Linked DNA regions of Homo sapiens: region 1 is linked to region 2. The links come from fine-mapping of genetic effects on gene expression. Tissue or cell type: whole blood. Region 2 holds a variant in brackets; the other region holds the start of a gene. All regions are shown on one strand. Distances are from middle to middle.

Region 1 (8,104 bases), 43 kb before region 2:
TAATCCCAGCTACTCTGGAGGCTGAGGCTTGAGAATCACTTGAACCCGGGACGTGGAGGTTGCAGTGAGCAGAGATTGCATCACTGCATTCCAGCCTGGGCAACAAGAGCCAAACTCCATCTCAAAAAACAAACAAACAAAAAACCAAATGGCAGCTGTGCATTCCCTTTTCTCAGTAACTCCGATTCTAGGAATTTATCCTATGGCAATACCTGATCAAGTGTGCAAAAATGTAGTTAGAGGAATGTGTTATTGTGAATGTTTGTAATTAAGAAAAGCTAGGGGAAAAAACCCTAATTGCTCACCAATACATTCAAGTTATCATATAGCCATTCAAGGAAACACCATACAGCCATTTTTTAAAGTGAACTAGATTTCTATGTGCTGATGTGGAAAATGTTTAAACCATAGAAAGGAAAAACAAGCAAGCTGTGGAAGATTGTGCAGTCCGAATCCCATTTGTCTAAGAAAATAAACCATGTGAGTGCTTGTACAGACAGAAGATATCTGGAAAGATCAACACAAATTGTTCACAGTGGTTGTCTCAAGGATTAGGGGCTGGGAATGGAGGAGGCCAGGGACTGCATTCTGTATCCTTCTGCAGAGCTTCAATTTCTTCCTTTCTCCTTTCTTTGTCCCGTTCCTAATCCCTTTCTATCTTTTTTTATTTTTGAGATGGAGTCTTGTTGTCACCCAGGCTGGAGTGCAGTGGCGCGATCTTGGCTCACTGCAACCTCCGCCTTCTGGGTTCAAGCGATTCTCCTGCCTCAGCCTCCCGAGTAGCTGGGAATACAGATACCCACCACCATGCCCGGCTAATTTTTGTATTTTTGTTAGAGATGGGGTTTCACCATGTTGGCCAGGCTGGTCTCAAACCCCTGACCTCAGGTGATCTGCCCACATCGGCCTCCCAAAGCTCTGGGATTACAGGCGTGAGCCAGCACGCCCAGCATTTTTTCTTCCATAAAAACTATGTGCATATATTACTTTAATAATTTAAACAAATAGTAAAGAACTTAAAAATGAAGAGGGTAGGCCAGGCATGGTGGTTCACATCTGTAATCCCAGCACTTTGGGAGGCTGGGAGGATGGGAGGATCGTTGGAGCACAGGAGTTCAAGACCAGCCTGGGCAATATGGTGAGACCCTGTCTCTACAAAACATACACACACACACACATACACACTAGCCAGGTGTGGTGGTGTGCACGTGTAGCCCCAGCTACTCAGGAGGCTGAGGTGGGAGAATCACTTGAGCCTGGGAAGTCAAGGCTGCGGTGAGCTGTGATGGTGCCACTGCACTCCAGCCTGAGTAACACAGTGAGACCCTGTCTCAGATAAAATAAAATGAAATAAACAGGGTTCATGGCAACAGGTCATAGATAGAGATTTTCATTTCTGTTTTAGAGAGCTATTAGAGACAAACTAAACAATCCCATATTCAAATTGACAAAATAGACCCAATGTTTTTAATTACTACAGCTATGGTCTAATAACCTCAGGCTCTTCCTGTTCTTGTTTTTGGCTTTATGATTGGATATTTCTTCATTCATCCCCTATTTATTTTGTGCCTACCATGTATTAGGCTCAAGGACTTTCATCTTCTGCAACGGTGGGGGGGGTCATTTAAAAGAGCCCTAGCTATGCTACAGAAGGGAGGAGACTGGGCGCAGAACGCATGCCTGCAGAGGACTGCATCCATTCAGTAGACATTTGCTGGATATTTTCTATGTATATACCAGGCACCAGGAACATAAAAATGAAGGTGGTACAACCGCTGCCCTCTCTGGAAAAGCTCACACTTGGTGGAGACAGACACAAACAGGAAAGCCCATAAGACAAACATGGTGATGGGCAATGCAGAAGGCGCTGTGGATCCCACAGGACACCTTGTCCAGCCTAGAGGGTTGGGAAGGCCACCTGGAGGAAATGAGCCAGGCTGGAAGTTGAGTGGAGTGGGCCAAGCATGGAGGGAAGGAGCAGGGAATGCGGGGACGGTGCTTGGGAGTGAGCAGTAAGGGAAGTGCTGGGCCGCCAAGGGGAGGCTGAGCTCAGGAGTGTGGACTTTATGGTGAGTATAACTGAGTGACAAGAAATCTGTGTTTTATAAAGGCCACTCCAGTGGCAGTGTGGAGCCGGGTCAGAGGAAATAGAAGAAAGGCAGGTAGAGGGACACTGTTCCCAAGTCAGTCACTTTGGCACCACCCTGATGACTTGTACCCTATTTGGGACCATCTGTGCTGTTATTGACTAGCATTTTTCTTAAATTAGCGTGCTTAGAAAACATAATTGATTTGGCAGGGCGCGGTGACTCATGCCTGTAATCCCAGCACTTTGAGAGGCCGAGGCGGGCAGATTGCCTGAGGTCAGGAGTTTGAGACCTGCCTGGTCAACTTAGTGAAACCCCATCTCTACTAAAAATAGAAAAATTAGCCGAGCGTGGTGGTGGGCGCCTGTGATCCTAGCTACTTGGGAGGCTGAGGCAGGAGAGTCGCTTGAACCCAGGAGGCAGAGGTTGCAGTAAGCTGAGATCACGGCACTGCACTCCAGCCTGGGCAACAGAGGGAGATTCCGCCTCAAAAAAAAAAAAAAAAAAAAAAAGGAAAAGAAAAAAATAATAAATGATTTAAACAGGAAACTAGTGGTAAGAACAAACAACAGGCTGCATGGATCCAGTGCTGGGCCCGGGGTCAGAGGACAGAAACTGCGAAGGGCGGTCTCAAGTGAGGCTGCCGATTCCGGTCCCTGAAGGCCTTGGACCAGGGCACAGAGGAGGGACTGCTGGCTGCAGGAGGGCCCTGTGACCTCATGCTGCTCCTCACTTCACCTCCTTCCCTTGGCTTCCACGCTTCCATTGCTTCCGACCTCGGTGTCCCCGTCTTCTGTCTCCTCCACTGGCTCTTCCTCCCAGCCTTTCTGTGTCGGAGGCTCCTGGATCCAGCATGGGTCCCATCCTCTTTCCTTCCTGCCTTCTCATGGCTTTAAATGGCCTCTAGACGTGGGCGGCGCCCAGATGTGAGCTTCAGCCCAGACTTCTCCCTTGCACTCCAGCCTCGTACCCAGGAGCCCACCTGATTCATGGATTTTTATCTCCCATACATCTTGAGCTTAGCACGTCCAAAACAGACTCTCGTTCTCCCCCAAATCTTCTATGCCCCAGGTCTTCTGTATCCCAGGGGATGGCAAATCATTCCTCCAGTTGCCCAGCTGGAAACGCTGTAGTCATCCTTGATTCTCTCTTTCTCTCACACCCCATATCCAATTTTCAGACAATCCTGCTGGTCCCACCTTCAAAGCATATCCAGAATTCGGCCACTTCCCACCACCTCACTCTATTGCCCTCGGCCTGCATCATGGCAATGGCCTCCTACCTGGTCCCCACCACGCAGCAGCAGAGAACTATTTTAAAATGTGAGACCCTGTCACTACCCTGCTCCAAGCCCCTCCAAGGCGTCCCCACCTAGCCCAGAGGGAAAGCCACAGTCCTTACGGAAGCCGGCAAGGCCCTGCTCAATCCGCTCCCCTGCGCCCACTATCTCTGACCGCAGCTCCCGCCTCCCTGTGCCCCACCAGCCACCCGGGTCTCCTCAAGGGTCACAAAACACACCAGGGTCCCTGCCTCAGGTACAGTCCCACCTTCGTGGCCCCTCATCTCCTTCAAGCCTGAAAGCCTCGCTCCTCCCCGCCTCCCCAGGGCCTGCCTGCTTTACCTTCCAACCAGCCACACCATTTACTTGTTTTTGTATTGCCCGTTACCCCAACTAGGAAGGCGAGGAGTTGTGTCTGTTCTGTTGACTGCCCTGTCCCCGGCGTCTGGGGCCGCGCCTGTCCGAGGGTCAGGTCCGACGCTGGGCATGTGGGGACTCAGTGAGCGGACCCTGGGAAAGACGGCAGCTCGGGAAGGACAAGTGGGGGCCGTCGCGGTGGAGTGGTGCCCGGGGCCGGCCCGGGGCGCGCGACTGCACGGGCAGCGTGGGGCGGCCGCGCGGGGAAGTGGCGCCCGGGAGGCTGCGGGGCACAGACATCGCGGAGCCCCAGGGACTGCCGCCGAGGGGACCGCGGGAGCTGCGAGGGCAAGAAATCCTAAAAGCGCGCGGCCGCGGTGGGCCAGGAGAAGGGACATTCCGGAGACGGCTCTCGGGGGAAGCCACGGGACTCGGGCGTGACAGCCTGCGAGAACCGAGAGGTGAGACGCGCGACCGGGGAGCGCGGCGACCGGCAGAGGCGCCCCCGCCGGGCGAGCGCAGGGGCAGCGCGGGGCGCTGGGGCCGGAACAGCGGGCAATGTGGGCACGGGGCGCGGAGGCCTGAGTGAGCGAAGAAGGAGGCGGCTGTACGGCCGGGGCTCGTCGCGAAGGGGATGGCCGGGGACGGCGGGGACGGCGGGGGCGGCGGGGGCGGTGGCGGGGCGCGAGCGGGGGCGCTCTCGGTGCGCGCGGAGGTTGGCGGGTGCGCGCCGCAGCCGCAGCGCTCCCTCTCCTGTCAGGGCAGGCGCGTACGGCCGCGAGTCGGGCGCGCAGCCCCGGGAGCGCAGTCCCGGGCGCAACCTCGCGGAACGCGCGGCCCCCGCCCCCCGCCCCGCGCCGCTCGTCCCCGTCAGCCCCGCCCCGGCGCTCTTCTCGCCGACCAATCAGGAGGCGCGACCGGCCTCCCAGCCCCGAGGCCTCGCCCCCAGCCGGCGCATCGCCAGCCAATGAGCGGCCGAGCCCGGCGCCCAGTGCGCGCAGCCCGCGCGGAGCCGGCTCAGAGCGAGAAAAGCAAACCCAACCCGTCGGGGCCGCCGCTCCGGACCCGCAGCCGCCGCCGCCGCCTCCTCCCCCCGGATCGGGTGTACTGTCCCAACCCGAAAGTCCAGTTCTGCGGCCCGGCAGCGGCGAGCGGGCGCGATGACACAGGAGTACGACAAGTGAGTGAGGCGCAGGAGTCCGGCCGCCGCGGGGGGGCCGCGCTGAGGGGCCGCACCTGCAGCGAGCGAGCCGGGCGCAGACCCGAGGCCGCGCGGGCGGGCGGGCGCGGGGCGCGAGCCGGGGGCCGCTGTCCACTCCACGCCGCCACGGCCTTTGCCCCTTAGCCCTGCCGTGCTCTTTGTTCGGTCGGAGCCTCGGGAGGAGAGACCCTGTCCTCGGGGAAACTCGACACCGGAGGGGCCACCCTCCTCCCCTCCTCCGCGGCCAGGTTGGGTCCCCTCGGGCGCGCACCTTGGGGTCCGGGCCCCCGGCGCGGTCGGGTGCGGCGCGAGGTCGGGGCGCAGCCAACGCCCCCGGGCCTCCCCGCCCCCCTCTCCTGCCCGGTCGGCCTCGGGAGCCTGGTGGGGCTCGCGCCGCGTCGGGACAGGTGGACTTCTCCAGGTAATCTGTGGTCTCAGGCTCGTCACTCGGCGACCTGCTGGAACCTCCAAAACAGAAATGTAGGGAAAGGTTGAAGTGCCCCGATGTCCGGGCGTTTTCTTTTCCCTGGCTGGCGGCATGAGTGGGAAAACGGCTGTAGGAGTTATTTTGCCACTTGCATCATTGATGGTAATTACAGATTACCGTGTTTTTAGTGCTCGAGAGAATCAAGAGGATGAAACTTTGAAATCCGGGTGTTAAACGAGAAAGTACTGTACAAGCTAATATGCTTTTTAGAGTGTGTGATTTAAAAGCGTATTTCGACAAATGTGAGGTGGTAGTGTAATAAGGCATGGGGGATTAACTGGGCGAGGGAGTTTTCTGTATTTTCTTTGCAGCTTTTCTGAAAATATAAAATTGTCCTAAAAATTTTAAAAACTTACTAAAGAAAAAACAGGGAAATCGCACCAGGCCAGTCAGTATATTTCAGATCAGGAAGTTTAAGGCAGATAGGTACCCCTCCCAGTTTCTTAGTTATTTGTGAAGGATCGGTTTTTGTCAGTGTGTTCTTTTTCTGGATGAGATAGATATTTTGTATGGAGTATCTTAAATGGATTACTCTTATGTTGTAGAATATGCAGTTAAATTATTGCCTGAAACATATTTCAGAAGTCTGAGAGATCGCAGACGCGGAGTTTAAGGCTCACCTGAAAGTGATGATGAGCCTTCGGCGACTGAAGCCTACTTCCTGACTGTCATGAGGAAGTGGACTAAGAAAGGCAACTGGTTTTGTGTTTATTTCTTGACGTATAGTTTAGATAAGGCAAATTTTCCAAAGCTAACATTTTGGCCTTAGGCAGGCTTTGGAAATATGAAACACCTTCAGGGTGATTCCAAACATAAAGCCATTTCTTTCTCTGTTTTCTATTGCTTGTACAAATTTGGGATGTGGGTGGGAGAAGAAGGGAAGTTGAAAACTAGCATTAAGGGAATTGAACAGCCAAGTGCTGTCATAGTCTTCTGGAAGTAGCTATTACGCTATTAATTATAGCTTAGCAGTACATCAGTCAATCAGTCCATGGCACCAGCCGTTCAGTAGCTGTTGTACTCTGGTCCTGATGGCTCAGGGAATGCCACTTTGTATATTTCTTTATTTTCTTTAAAGTTGAGATTTGTGTAAGCAATCTTCTCCATTTTTAGACAAATGATCTGCTGGCTTTGAACAGTCTTTTATGTTTGTTTTGTGTTAAAATAGTATACCACCTCAAGACTTTCTTACCAAATGTAACGTTTATGCCAAAACGTGAGTAAAAACATTGGCTTTCAAATAACACTTCATTTTGACTGAGGATACATTGTTGGATTTTTTTCCCCTTTTTTGAAGATGTTCTCCTTTTTCTAAATCTGTATCTGTTCTTAAAGGCCCTGGGTGACTCCCAAACGCTAACCTTTGTTGATTACTTGAAAAGATAATCAGTCTTTCTACATTCACTTTTAAAATAGGCAGGTCACCTTTAGGCCATTTACATATTTCATTTGTGTGTTGCAATGAGAGCCAGTCCTTCAATTTGCTTGTTAGAATTGTAATAATTCAGAGGAGTTCCAAACATTTAAAATTTATTTTTCTCCTTGAAAATAAACTGCTTTGTTTTGCTAGAGTCAGTGTTCCATTTTTTCTCTTTATTGACTTATTAAATAGTACCAACCGAACAGTTGTTGAGACTGTTTACATTTCAAGTTTTTGGAATTAGTAATGTTTGCTTTAATCTTTTAAATTAAATCTTCTGTAAGGTTTCACTAAGATCGCCATTGATTTTTTTGGATTTTTCCCACCAAACTACAGTGTTAAAATGAAACAGTTCTTGTGCAATGTGGAAAACTAGCAAAGATTTTTTAAAAGCCAGATTTTCCCACCTATTTTTTTTAAAACTTTTTGTTCAGTGGCTTCATTTATTGTTGGATATCCTTAAGTGTTTATCTCTAAGATAAACAGTTAACTCCCATGCCAGAAAATTATGCCTCTTTATTGATTTACAGTCCCCTTTGGCCACATTCCATGCTCAATCTGCTGGTAATCAGTAGAATATTCTGGCTTTCTCATATACCCTGGAGGATTGCGTGAAGGATCCCTTTTTCTTTCTGCTGCTTCTCCCCTCCCCACTGTGTTCAGGTAGGAATTTTTAAGGCATGGCAGCCACAGTAGAAAGAGGGAATAACATGTAGCAGTGTGATGAACGGCACACGCTCTTCTCAAGAGGGGACAGTCCTGATTGTGTGTTGGAAGAGAACAAGTATTCTCTTTTCTTTACTGTGTCCTTGTGTTTGTTTATGGAAAGTATTTGAATAGCCTGGCATTTTCTCGGGGATGGTTTTGTTTCGCTTTTTTGCCAAATAGTATACCCTGGGTTCCACGTGTAGGTGAACTGCCAGTTCTCTGGCTGCCTAGATACTTTATGTCTTACTGTGGGACCCATTGGTCTGCACTTACGTGGTTTGTCTTCTGGTCTTGTCTTAATTTGACTTCCTAGGGTCATTGATGAAACAATAGGCTATTTTATAGGAATGTCAAGGAATTGGTAGCTTATGATACCTTGCAGTAGAAAAGTGTGTGTTTTTGTTTTTTTTTTAATTTCTCTGAAGCAAACGGCCAGTGTTGGTTCTTCAGAATGAAGCACTTTATCCACAGCGGCGGTCCTACACTAGTGAGGATGAGGCCTGGAAATCCTTCCTGGAAAACCCTCTCACTGCAGCGACCAAAGCGATGATGAGCATCAATGGAG
Region 2 (8,104 bases):
GTGATGATGCATATTTCTAGTTCCATCTTCACTTTGTGAATTCTGCTTGGTTAGATCTGCCACATGGTTGATACCAGGCCCTTGGACTGAATCACAGCCTTCAGTGATAACCTTGGCCATATAGGAGAGTATACTCAAGAGTAGGGCCAACTTGGGTTTTTTCTTTCATTTCCTTTTCCTACTGGACAAAGGGAAAATACCCTTGTGTCTTTGCAGGCATGTGGTATACTCACAGATTTTCTCAGCTTTCATTTAACACGACCACATCCATTATAAGGAGAAATTTTGCTTTTTTTTTTTGAGACAGAGTTTCGCTTTGTCACCCAGGCTGGAGTGCAGTGGTGTGATCTCAGCTCACTGCAACCTCCACCTCTCAGGGGTTCAAGCAGTTCTCCTGCCTCAGCCTCCCAAGTAGCTGGGACTACAGGTGCCCGCTACCACGCCTGGCTAATTTTTGTATTTTTAGTAGAGGTGGGGTTTCACCATGTTGGCCAGGCTGGTCTCGAACTCCTGACCTCAAATGATCCACCCACCTCGGCCTCCCAAAGTGCTGGGATTACAGGCATGAGCTACCGCTTCCGGCCGGAATTTTGCTTTATTTGTTTTTCAAATAAATGTTGTTCCCTGTGATTTCATAGAATTAAAAATAATTTTAAGACTAATCTTTTTAGAAGAAACTACTATGATAAGCCTCATGAATATAGTAAGTAATGGGGTTCCTGTCCAGAGAAGGGAGAAAGGCTTCTTCTTCCATTGGTCAGGATAAGAGTTAAATATTTTAAAGAAGATTGGAAAACAGAATCATATCTTGTCTTCTCTTAACCTACAGGGAGCTGAGCGGAAAATCAGGGATGAAGAACGAAAGCAAAGCAAAAGAAAAGGCAAGTGTCCTGACCCCAGCTCCCAGGTGAATGCCTGTAAGTAGAAATGTTCCCGGCAAGCTTCAGACCTTTTCCATTGAGAATGGTGGCTGGAGTTTGCACGCAGAAGACAGTGGGTGTTCTTCCTGTTCTGCAGTGTGGCACTGCCTCTTCCTCAGATCAGCAGCAGATGCCAGCTCAGCGGGAGGGGTTTTCCTGGGGACTACAGGATAGATCCCTGGGTTTTCCCGACCTCAGCGTTTTTGGCTCTCAGTTCTAGTTCAGACTTCTGTTTCCAGTCTTGAAAAATGACAACACGTTCTGCATGAATCACTGTTAAAATTGGGACTTATCTAGATTTTTTAAAGTAATAATAATGGTCTTGAGAATTCAAGATGTCTTAACTCCAAGTAAGATCATATTTTGTATCTAAAGTATAGTATTTTAATATTTGCAGAATCTATAGGGCTTCTGTTTGGACATTTCACCAGGAAGGCTTTGTTTTCTTTTTTTTTTAATTGTGACCAGTATTCATATTCACAAAATCTTGTATCTAAAATGAAGAAAGTGCTGTTCTGTGCCTGTAGGGTTCCATCTGTAGTACATGGGCTTCTGGCAGCTCTTTTGAATGGTCTGTCTGGCTCAGCAGACATTTGCCCTGCAACACCTTAGTCAGGATTCTCCTACTGGTATCAAAGTACAAACTCCCAGTGACACTTCAGAGAGCAGCTGACTAACTAGGAGACCTCATTACTGAGTACTTCAGGGCCAGCCAGATCATTGGGGAAGATGGAGTCTCTAACTTACTAAATTAAAAATTGGATGGGCATGCTTACACTTCACCTCATTGTCGAGTTTCTTGATATGTTCTGAAGTCAATGGGTCCATGAGTGTTGGAATGTAAATTATTTAATGAGGACAGCTGAGGTGAAATTTCTTCCAAATTATGTTTACACAATTATACATTTTAGCCTTTCCAATGAAAACTAAATACGCTCTGCCTCTGTCGCAAATCTTCTGTGGATATGCGTCTGTGTGTGTTTGAAGATACCTTTTCCCTTTTGATTTGATAAGACATTCAGTTGATTTTAGTGGAAATACACACAACAAATTCCTTTACATAAACTGGGATTCTTAGGCAGGCAGCGTGCCCTGTTGTATCTTACAGAGTGCTACACTTGGAGTATCTTACTCAGAGGCGAGCACTCTGTGGCCTGCATCCAGTCTGTATGTAATCCTTTGACCTTGGCTTCCTCTTTTTTAATTTTTTTTTTTTTCAGTTTCTGATGTTAAAGTGCCACTGCTTCCCTCTCACAAGCGAATGGATATCACAGTTTTCAAACCCTTCATTGATCTCGATACTCAGCCTGTCCTCTTCATTCCTGACGTGCACTTTGCCAACTTGCAGCGGGGCACTCATGTAGGTAACCAGGATCCCAGGGGAGGTTACCAGGAAGGAAGGCATGGCAAAAGGAAATTCTTTGGCATTATTCATGGGAAACAGAAGCCAAAATTGAGTGAGGTTTGACCAGTTAGTCAGCTCTTTGGAATATTCTGCTGGGGTGACATGATGCCCGTGCAATAAAAATGGTAAGCATCGCTGATTTCAAGGTGCAGTGCAGCCTGTCAGCTTTATTCTGTTTGTATTCATTCATTCATTCGTTCGTTCTTCATACCTACATATCCTAGCTCATTTAAAAGATTCTAGAATAGTAGCATAATTTGGAGTTTGAGCCTGTCATCTTTTTAAACTTAACTTGGGGCAATACCTAGGTTAAGGAGCTCTTATAACATAAGAACATCCGAAGGCTTTTCTCACAGTTCCAGTTACTGAGCCGTCCTTGCCACGTGTAGTTACCAATGGCCATGTCTTGGCAACTAAAACTAAATTTTAAAAAATGGTCACGCCCTGTTTTGTGGCAAAGGCTTACAAGGGATAGAAACTTCAGTAGAATGAAGCATGGTTTTATGCTGAGTGCAAATAAATATCAAAAAGACAGTCTTTCATGCACTTTGTGGACAGATTTATAAGGACTAAAGATTCGTCAGAGTTCTTGGGGCCATGGCCAGTACATTTAGTTTCTAATGGGAAGCTGGAGGTGAGCAGGGGTTAGCACACTGTTTTTGTGAAGGGCTGGGCCGTAAAGGTTTTCAGCTTTTGGGGCCCCGTGGTCTCCACTGTGCTGCTCAGTGCTGCCGAACTAGTGCACACATGGCCATAAGCAGCATGTGAATGAATGAGCGTGGCTTTGTTTCAGTAAAGACTTTATTTACATGAACTGGCTTTAGACCAGATTTGGCCCAACCACTGAGTTAAAGGAGTTCAAGACATCTGTAAGAATCTGTTATTGAAAACTAAGGCTAAAGGATTTTATATTAGATTGGTGAAATTCAAAATTATTTCCATTTTAGGAATAATTCATTTATGGCCAAACATTTTGAGCATACATTTGAAAAGCAATCTATTCCTTTGGTCTTAGGTCCTTCCCATTGCCTCTGAAGAATTGGAGGGTGAAGGGTAAGATTTATGTTTTGTTTTGTTTTGTTTTAATAATGGAAATGATTTCAAACTTGTAGAAAAACTGCAAGTACAGTACAAAGAACTCATTTTTCCCTGAGCCATCAAGGATAAGTTGCCAGCCTGATGGCCCATCACTCCTGAATATCGTGGTATATATTTCCTACCAACAAGGACATCCTCCTGTGTCACAGTCAAGATTAGAATATTAACATTGCTTCATTAGCACCAATAATGTCCTTTATAGCAAAAAAGGATCCAGTTCAGGATCACACATTGTAGTTGTTTGTCATGTTTGTTGATCTTCTTCAGTCTAGAACTAAGCCACTCCTTAACTTTTCTGACCAAATATTTTTGAAGATTACAACCAGCTGTTTTGTAGACTCTTCTTAGTTTGCGTGTGTCTGCTGCTCTCTCATGGTTAGATTCCAGGCCTGGCAGGGATGT[C/T]ATAGAGGCCAGGCTGGGTTCTCCGTGTGTCCTAGCAGATGGCGCTTGATGTCAGTTTATCTGTTACTAATGGTGTTCTTTGGTCACTTGATTAAGCTGGTATCTGCCAGCTTCTCCACTGCAAAGTGGCTCCTTTTATAGTAAGTGTTGTCTGGGGAGGTGCATTGTAGCTTTGTAAATATCTCATTCCCCATCAAACTTTCAGTTTACTCGTTCATTTATTGCTATCAGTATGAACTCATAGTTTCCTGTTTTATTCAATAAGCTGTGATTCATTAGTCATTTACTTTGATGCTCAGGTTGTCCCAGAATTGGGCTCTGCCTTCCTGTGCCGGGCAGCCCCCTACTCATGCTGCCTAGTGGAGGGGGGCTGACGCTACCCCTCTTTGGGCTATCAGAACCTTCTTGATGGCTCTGGGACTTTTTCAACAAGGCAAAGATTCTTTTTGTTTTTATTTCATTTTACTTTTAGAGACAGGGTCTTGCTCTGAGGCCCATGTAGGAGTGCAGGGGTGCAGTCACAGCTCACTGCAGCCTTGAGCTTCTGGGCTTAAGTGATCCTCCTGCCTCAGACTCCTGAGTAGGTGGGACTACAGGCACATGCCACCACACCCATCTAATTATTATTATTATTATTATTATTATTATTATTATTATTATTGTAGAGATCCTGGTCTCAGGCAATCCTCCCGCCTCAGCCTCCCTCTTTCTGTTATCTGCCCTCAGAAAGGTGCATCCTGATGGAGAGAGCCAAGATTTCCATGGGAAGTTCATTCCTCAGCATCCCTCTTCCCTCATCTTCCATCCATTCCCAGGGCTTAAACCGTCATACTGGGGACATTCATGCCCCACACGTTACCCATCGTGCCTCTCTTTGAAGGCGAGGCCTGCACTGCCCCTTTGATTCTTAGTGTTTCAGGCTTGAGTCCTGCCGGCACTTTCACTAGACGGCTGCTGTGTGTTAGGAACTGAGGTGGCAGAGTCTCGGAGGCTCAGCCCCTGCTCCTGAAGTGGCCATTCTGCTCCAAATCCAGCACTCCCTCCCTTCACTTTCAGTTATCTACCTCTTCTCTTGCTTGCCGTGACACCACCTGCTGGACCCTCCATGCCAGGTGCCCCTGGTAGCCAGGCGTTCGTTCGATCTGAGTTTTTCTCTCCTCAGACTCTCCTTGGTCTGTTCTCACCTTTTGGCTTCCATGATACCACCATATTTTAAACCTGTGGAATCCTGTGCTCGGATTATACCAGCCTCCTTCCCCTGGTTTTTCTGCTTGAAGGTCCTGGGGTCCCCTCCAGTCTTGACCACACACTTTGGGTACCAACACACTTTGGGTACCACACTCAGTCTCACAGACCTTTCAACTATTCCCTCTTCTCTGCCATGTAAAATTTAATTCCTTAGAGCTGAATGATCAGGACATTCACGGTAGAGTCGGCTTCCCGAAATTTCTAGATATGGCTTCCTGTGGGCCATTCTGTTTGAGCCAGGCTGGCCCTGCATTTTCCTGCTCACACTTCCTCAGTGTTTTGAAACATCATCTCCTTTGTCACTGCCTGTACAAGGTTATCTCAGATCCTGCCTCCTCCATAGAGTGTTTCCTGAAAAGAAGCACCAGACAGCCAGGCGTGGTGGATCATGCCTATAATTCCAGCACTTTGGGAGGCCAAGGTAGGAAGATCGCTTGAGCCCAGGAATTTGAGAACATCCTGGGCAACATAGGGAGAACCCATCTCTACAAAAATAAAAAAATTAGTTGGGTGTGGTGGTGTGCGCCACTTGGGAGGCTGAGGTGGAAGGATTGCTTGGGCCTGGGCGGTTGAGGCTGCAGTGAGCCGTGATCCATGATTGCACCACTGCACTCCAGCCTGAGCAACAGAATGAGACCCTGTCTCACAAAAAAAAAAAAAAACCAAAGCGCCTCATCTTCGAGAAGGCAGCTTTATCTGATGAGAGTGCAGATACCTGCAGGGAACCTGAGTGTGGTCCCATGTCTGCCTGTAAATATCCATGAGCCCTGGAGTCAGGATCTTCCTTTAGCCTGATTTTTCATCCACAAATAAGGAAGCTGGACCAGATAAAGAATGAAAGTCATTTTAAATCTAGTTCCATGACAGGCTCTAAAACACCTTAATGTTGATGCAGCTGGTTAAGTTGAATCACTAACGGCATATTTTGGATCACTGCAGCTCTGTCTTGAAAAGGGGGCCGTACGGCACAGAAGATGACTTTGCTGTCCCTCCTTCTACCAAGCTGGCCCGGATAGAAGAACCAAAGAGAGGTGTGTTCGTTTCCATTTCTTAGTGGGAGTTTTAAATCAGAAGTGAGTTCAGAATCTATCAAAAGCATAAATGGTTCAAGCACATTTTTCCCAGTTTCACTTGCTTGGGAATTCTTCCATCAGACTGACATCTAGCTTGAGCTAGGACTTAGAGCAAAGTTCAGAGAAGCTGAAACCTGTGTTCCTTAAGACAGAATTGATATTGGCTGATGCTTGTCATCCTTGATGTGAATGTGGTTTTTATTTTAGCTGGTACCGTGGTCTGTTTTCCTCTTTTGCTCATGTGAACTGTATCCTTTTTTTCCTCTCTTTTCCCTTCCTTATTCCTGGTTGGGGATTGATTAGTGCTGCTCTACGTTCGAAAGGAGTCAGAAGAAGTCTTTGATGCCCTGATGCTCAAAACCCCATCTTTGAAGGGCTTGATGGAAGCTGTAAGTAGGATCAACTCTGTAATCCCCTGTACAAAATGAAAGGACAAGTACATAGGATTTCATTGAAACACTTTATCAGATGATCCAAATCCTTTGTCAGACCTTCTGGAATCCCTGACACCTTTCTCGAGTCGTCGTGCGTCCCACATTTTATCCTCACCCAGGGGTCTTAACTCACACAGTCACTCAGTCACACCTGTTCCACTGAAGTGAATGCATCTGTGATGGCCTATGAAATGTTTAATTTTTATATACGTGGTTAAAGGGAGATTGCCATTTAGCAAGCCACTTAGAAGCTAACAAAAGTGATTTTTAATCAAGTACAATCTTAAAAACTTCATACATAAAAACAGTGGCTCCTCAGTCTACCTTTAAAACTCCCAATCCTAGGAAATTACTGAACTTGCATCAAGACCTCACTACAGCCTATTGCAGAGAAAGTAGACGTGTAACCAGTGATGGCCGTAAGTCCATCTTACGAGGATCTCAGCACGAGGCTGGAATAAACTGACCCCATGCTCCCTGTGGGGATATCAGTAAGAGAGGAAACATGGAAGGCTGCTGTGTTAATTTCCCGTTCCAGCTGTGCACTGGAAAAACGCATGTCATCAGCACTGAGTGCAGATATTTACCAGCCTGTCTCCTAGAGACCGTAGAGATCTTTAAGCTCAAAGTGTGTCCATAATTGGGCTAAAAGCATCTCCCCCAGCTCCCTCTGATGACTGTAGTGTGTTGAATTCATTTAACACATCTTGATAAAGGGCTTGCTTCATGCCAGGCACTGTGGCGGGCACTGGAGTTATGCGCGTCAGTGACACAGTGCTGAATGGAGTTTATTTTGTAGTTAGGAAGACACAGACACCAAAATAAGCAAAGAAGTTGAGGTCATTTTTCAGGTACTGATGAGTGCCATGAAGATTAATAAAGCAGGGAGATGGGGCGTGGGTTTGGGGAGCTGCTGTGCGGTCTCTCAGCCAGGCGCCCCAAGTCCACGGGTGTCACTCAGTGCATCCCTGCCTGCCCACAGCACAGGCAGCGCCGTTCCCACTGTCACTTCCTGCCTCCTAGGATGTCCCCTGGGTTTCTCTTTTCTTGCCTTTTGATGACCCTTCATCATGTCTTAAGAATCATGCAAACTGGCCAGGTGCGGTGGCTCACACCTGTAATCCCAGCACTTTGGGAGGCAGAGGCAGGAGGATCACCTGAGGTCAGGAGTTCGAGACCAGCCTGGCCAACATGGAGAAACCCTGTCTCTACTAAAAATACAAAAAATTAGCCAGGCTTGGTGGCAGGCGCCTGTAATCCCAGCTACTCGGGAGGCTGAGGCAGGAGAATCACTTGAACCAGGGAGGTGGAGGTTGTAGTGAGCTGAGATCCCGCCACTGTACTCCAGCCTGGCATAGCAAGACTCCGTCTCAAAAAAAAAAAAACAACAAAAAACAAACAAACAAAAAACATGCAAATTCTGATTACAGGGAAAGAGGAGAGTAAAGAGGATGCAGAATTACTGGGCCAGCATAACTGTTCATGGCTCACGAGGAACTCATGACAGGTCTTACATGTCAGAAC

The links. PIP is the estimated chance that this variant, and not a neighbour inherited with it, causes the effect.
Region 1: GRHL1 starts here. The variant in region 2 is fine-mapped to the expression of GRHL1 in whole blood (INTERVAL, PIP above 0.99).

What each region holds. Positions count from the first base shown.
Region 1 is chr2:9,946,951-9,955,054 of GRCh38, forward strand. GRHL1 (grainyhead like transcription factor 1) reads left to right here and starts at 4,743. Exons shown (of 16, transcript NM_198182.3): 1 at 4,743-4,903; 2 at 7,965-8,104. The coding sequence starts at 4,884. LOC105373422 (a long non-coding RNA gene) reads right to left here and starts at 3,903. Exons shown (of 3, transcript XR_922784.4): 1 at 3,755-3,903. RefSeq lists silencers at 3,974-4,053, 4,204-4,253, 4,354-4,403, 4,494-5,033.
Region 2 is chr2:9,989,867-9,997,970 of GRCh38, forward strand. It overlaps GRHL1 (grainyhead like transcription factor 1), which reads left to right. Exons shown (of 16, transcript NM_198182.3): 10 at 830-881; 11 at 2,141-2,280; 12 at 3,341-3,378; 13 at 6,013-6,104; 14 at 6,450-6,535. It overlaps LOC124905970 (a long non-coding RNA gene), which reads right to left. Exons shown (of 2, transcript XR_007086207.1): 2 at 3,109-6,561. Among named protein-coding and RNA genes, the nearest start is that of GRHL1, 42 kb to the left of the region's middle. The variant C/T (reference allele first, on the strand shown) is at 3,826.